2 separate regions of the Homo sapiens genome follow, and region 2 is linked to region 1. The links come from fine-mapping of genetic effects on gene expression. Tissue or cell type: whole blood. Region 1 holds a variant in brackets; the other region holds the start of a gene. All regions are shown on one strand. Distances are from middle to middle.

Region 1 (2,685 bases):
TCATAATTCTTCCATGCCCAAAGTATTGTATTATCTTTCAAGAAGATTTTTTTTAAGATTGGAGACACTTTCTTCATAGTCTGTTTTTAGCTTTCATTGAATGCAGTTAAAAATTCAAATTTTTTCATTTTCTACTTGTGATGGCAAAGAGAAGAAAACTGACAAGGGAAGATGTTTCTGCAATAATTAGATGAACCAGAAGAGGAATATAGAGACAAGATATAGCACTCCAGATACTAATAATGGTAGAATTGATTGTACAACAGAAATCTCAGACTATGAGTCTTCAGATGATGATATCCTAGATGAATTTCTCAAATTCAAGAATCCAGGGTCAATGATACAATTCTAAGGACAAAAATAAAATACAGTACTCTTACACACTTCGATAGGGATTTCATCACATGATATTTTGCAACAAGAACTTCAACCATCTTATTTTGCTAAAAAAAAAAAATACATGTGATGGTATTCTTTTGTCTTTTATGATGTTTATATACCAAAATGTATGTGATACAAAAAGGTCTGCTATGTTTAAATTCTTATTAACAATTCCAGCATACTTTCTTTCATTATTCCTTTTCTTTTTACTTCCTGGTAAAAGGAGGATTAAGGCATTTGACAAAATTATCAGATTATTATTTTATTTTTAGAGATAGAGTCTTGCTCTATTGCCCAGGCTAGATTCAAATTCCTGGGTTCAAGCGAGCCTCCTGCCTCCAGCCCTAGAGTAGCTGGAACTACAGGCATGTGTCACCATGCCCGGCTCTTCAGATTCTTTGTAAATGTGGGTCCTGAGAGCAGTGACAGTCACAGTTCAGAGATTTGAATTTCTCTAATGGAACCAACAGGCCAGTGACAGGACTTGCCGTATGTCAGAGAACATCTTCACCTGCCTCAACAGCCTGAATATGAGCTCCATGATGGGCTCCCCCAGCTGCCCTGCTTCATATTGATGGCTTAGGAAGGGGGCCACTGAAACCATGTGGCTATGCATCCCTGAAAATGAAGAAGAAACTCGCAATAGAAACCACAACATTCTTTCAACAGAGATAGCAAACTAGGGAACTCTGTACCAGAACATCCCCACCTCTTTTCTGAC[A/G]TGCCATCCCTGCTCCCACACTCAAGAACGAGCTGATAGATGTGCCTAAGAGAGCCTTCCATTCAAAACTCGGCCATTTAAACACAGTCTACCTGACACCATGCAATTCCCACTGCCAGGTCCCAGGTATCCTGCCTAATCCCATGGCAGTCGAACTCATCCAGCCAGAGCCTTGACAAGGCTCATCCACAGCATGGAACACCACATTGAAGTTGTTCCTGGTTCTGCTGTGTCCACACATTTTGAATAGACCCTTCTGCACATACTGAGACCAATCTGTAGTCTTCCAAGAATCAACCACATAGCTGTAGGTTACTCCAGCTGCCATTGTGGGAATGGTGGTAAATTGCCTGAAGGGAGAAGAATCACTTCTGGAAAATGATTTATTAATTTTTTTTTTTGAGACAGAGTCTCACTCTGTCACCCAGGCTGGAGTGCAGTGGCACAATCTCGGCTCACGGCAACCTCTGCCTCCTGAGTTCAAGTGATTCTCATGCTAACAAACACTGGTACCTTCCTACTAAGTTTACTCCAGGCTTTATCTGGATTTCACCAGTTTTTCATTTTCTGTTGCAGGATCCAATCCAAGAGCTCACATTACTTTTAGGAAGCTGCTTTTGGATAAAACATGAGGAAAATGTCTAGAGTAGTAACACTAAATGGTTCTGAGGCTCTGTCTATGTGCCAGATACTGCATGGGTTGGAACATAACCTCCATTTATAAATGAGTAAACTGAGGGTCACAGAGGATCCACAGCAGGCAAGTGGCAGAGGAGGGGCATTGCTGGGGCTAGCAGTGGGTACCACAGCCTTTCCTGCCCAGCACAAACCTGGGCATACTGAGTTTTTCTCAAGAGTTTGCATGAAGACCAGAGCTGACAGGTGCCTGCCACCTCGGTACTTCCAGCGCAAAGCTCTGTGGTCAGGCTCCAAGCACTGAGTTAGATGCCACAGTTCAGTTCATCACCTCAGTTCCCTGCAAGGAGCAGCAAGGGCCAGTGGGCCAGAGCTGTCATCTGAATGCTAGTGAATTTGATCCAGATTCAAGCCCTAACCCAGCCACTCACCAGTGCTGTCTTTGGACAAGCCAATAACCTTTCTGAGCCTCAGTTTCCCCATCTGAAATGTGGAAATAATTGTTCCTAACTTCAGCAATGTTAGAAGATTTAAATAAGAGAATACAGGTCCACTTCAGAGAGCATGAATTCCCACCTCTGAATGGCAAACACAGGCATGCATGCACATGTGTGCATGTCTGTCCATATGCATGCACATAACATCATGGGCAAACTACAAATGTCCTCAATCCAAGAGCACTGCTGCCTGTTGTTTCTTTGTAGATAAAGACGAGGCAATTCACTCCCTGTCTACAGTGGCTGATGTGAATTCCATGTCATGGTTCAGAGACAATCTGGAGGGTGAACTCGGTACTGACAAGAGCTGGGGCTGAGGACGCAGCCTCCCAGTTTCAGATGCTTCTGATGGAGGCAGGATGAGGATGCCCAGTCTCCACTCCCCTGAGGTCCTGGGCCTGGTGGCCCCCAGTCCCTCCACACACTCATCACAGGGGGTGGGCCTGCTCC
Region 2 (2,685 bases), 100 kb after region 1:
TGCTAAGCCCTAGTTGGTCACACCGAACCATATTCCTATAAAGTAAACTCTAGACCAGTCCCTCTGCACTGTGCTCCCCTATGCCCCTCTCCTGGCACTGCCCGTGTTGAGGAGGCAGCACTGGGGTCCGGCAGCAGCGGCACGGCTGCGCCCAAGCGCACTGCCAAGCCCCGCTGTCTGGTTCCTACAACGCGGGGCTGGCCGCTGCTGAACTCGATATTATTTTTCCACATGGCCTCTGCCTGAAGATGAGGAGCATCTCTCCGGAAGGTCCCGCGAGAGAGTTAGACATTGCTCCATTCCACTCCTTCCCCCATCACCACCGTCTCCCCTGCCAGAACAGGTCCTGTGTGCGGCTGTAGGAACAGAGGGGTAGACTTCTTCCTCATCACTAACCCGGTCCCTTCTCCGCCTCTGCAGATTTCGTGATCCAAAGCCCGATTCAGCTTATTCAAAAGGAGCCACTTTCATTTTTGTAGGGCTGGCTCAAAACGAGGAAAGCAAGACAGGCAGCAACGCCGCCGAAACGAGAGCGGTGCCAAACCGTTCCCTGCTCGGGGTAGACTTTTTGGAGAAACTCCGGGGCGGGCCGGCAAACACTGTTCCTTTCCAAAAGAGTTACATACAGTTTTCACTGAGCGGTCCCGTGATCAAAGCAGTGAATTTTAAAGGGGACGGAGGACGTAAATAGAAGAAAAAGCAACCGAAATGACTTCTTGTGGTCCTGAAGCCGCTCTGCGAGGCGCCAATTCCCAGTCCTGAACTTCTCTCCTTCCTTTATGCCCCCATTCCTCTTATTTGTCCTGGGGTCCCCGCGCTGTGTGGTTGCCCTCAGGGCACTCCATGGCCGGTCGCCCGGCGTCTCGAGCCCCAGAGTGCAGGCCGGGCGTACTGGCATCGTCTGGGCGCAGAACCGGCCCCGGGCTGGGCGCGAAGCTCGGTTCCGAGGCAGCCCGCGGAAATCCGCCACCCCGGGGCCCACCTGCCTGTCCCCGAGAGTTGCCCTGGCCACCCCACAACGCTTCGCTGCCCCTCAACCTGCCCACCAGTCCCGCAGAAGCAGGTCCGAGCTGGGATGGAGAGAGTGGGGAGCTGCCCAGGAGCGCGGCGGAGTACCTTGGCCGCAGGCTCCGCGCTGCAGGACGATGACCGGCGGCCGGTGCAGCCTCTCGGAGCGGCGGCTGGCGGCGCGCAGCTGGCACAGGTTGGCGTAGGTGTTGGCGTCGCTGCCGCACACCGGCTCGCTGCTGGCGCACACACAGAGGCCGGCCTGCGCGCGCCGCCGCACCGTGGCCGAGGCTGGCACCCCGAAGGGCACCACGCACTGCAGCCCCTCGCCGCACGGGCCCTCCTGCAGGCCGCACGCGGCGCCCTCGGGCGCGCCGCACACCTCGCAGCAGCCGCACGCGTCCCGGGCCCGGCCGCCCTCGCAGTGCTCCGGCTGCGGCGGGCAGCGCGCCGGCTCGCAGCGGTCTGGGCACCCGGCGGCCAAAGGCGCCGAGCGGCCGGCCCGGGACAGCTGCGCCGAGGCGGGCGCCGCCAGCAGCAGCAGCAGCAGCGGGAGAAGAGCGGCGCGCGGGATCTGCATGGCGACTCTGGCGGCGGCGGCGGTGGCGGCGGACAGGGCGAGGGCCGGAGAGCGGCGCCGGGGAGAGTGCAGGAGGGCCTCGGGGGCAGCGGGTGCGAGTGCGCGCGGCCGCGCGGCCCAGCCCATTGGCCTCGCAGCGGTGACGAGCCGCCTTGGGGACGGGCACGGCGCCCGGGATGGGGGCTGGCCGGATGGCGGGAGGGAGGGCGGGCGGCTGGACCGGGACCGCCCGCGGAGGGGGCAGGGCGGGCGCGCCCGGGCACGGCGGTGCTGGCGGGGCGCGGGCGGGGCAGCGCACAGGCCGGCCCTCTCGCGGGACTCAGTTTCCCCGTCTGCGCGCCCCACATATTCGCTTTCCGCAGGTTCTCTCGCTGAGATTCGCGTCCTTCAAACTAATGGAACTTTGCAAGGGGGCCCTGCGGCGGCTTCGCGTGGGAGCGCCGGGGAAAGTTCCTGCAAATCGCCGGACTGGGGGCCCGCCCGGGAAGCTCGGACTGGGCCGGGCAGGGACTGCAGGGGCCTCTGCGCAGACCCGGGGCGTTGCGGCACCGCGGACCCCGGTCACGCGCTGGTTCTGCCCCCGGTACCCCGCACGCGGGACCCTGACCGCGGGGCCTCTGCGGCCGGACGAAGGCAGCGTCCGCGGAGCTGGCAGAAAGCCCGCGCCCAGACCCACAGTGAAGTGATAAAAGCAGAGAGCAGAAGTAATTCGAATAGAATCCTTCACACGTCTGATTCTTTTAAAAAGTTGTTGTGGGTGGCATGCGTGTCCGTATTCGCAGAGAGCCTAGGAAGCGGCTCGGCAGCTCGTAACTGGCGAGGGTGGAGCGGTCTCAGATGGGAAAGGGGTTTTCCCCTCTTTTGATTTTTCACCAAGTGCGTGATTATTTCAAAACACTTGTTATCAAAAATTTGATTTCCCACTGGAGAATCTTTGGTGCATCCGTTGGGACAGATGCGAGTCCGAGAGTCATCAGGAGGGCTGAGGGCGACCCTGGAGGTGGGTCTGGGTGCCCAGGCAGCACCAGGCCTGTGGGCAGTAGTCCTGGGTCCACACTGAGCAGATGGGCACAGCTCGTGTCCAAGGACCTGAGAGG

Evidence for each region. PIP is the estimated chance that this variant, and not a neighbour inherited with it, causes the effect.
Region 2: HTRA1 starts here. The variant in region 1 is fine-mapped to the expression of HTRA1 in whole blood (INTERVAL, PIP 0.96).

What each region holds. Positions count from the first base shown.
Region 1 is chr10:122,562,405-122,565,089 of GRCh38, reverse strand. The region is part of intron 1 of DMBT1 (deleted in malignant brain tumors 1); the gene reads right to left. Among named protein-coding and RNA genes, the nearest start is that of DMBT1, 3.0 kb to the right of the region's middle. The variant A/G (reference allele first, on the strand shown) is at 1,103.
Region 2 is chr10:122,460,556-122,463,240 of GRCh38, reverse strand. HTRA1 (HtrA serine peptidase 1) reads right to left here and starts at 1,688. Exons shown (of 9, transcript NM_002775.5): 1 at 1,117-1,688. The coding sequence starts at 1,588. It overlaps HTRA1-AS1 (HTRA1 and ARMS2 antisense RNA 1), which reads left to right and starts at 1,836. Exons shown (of 3, transcript XR_946382.3): 1 at 1,836-2,292.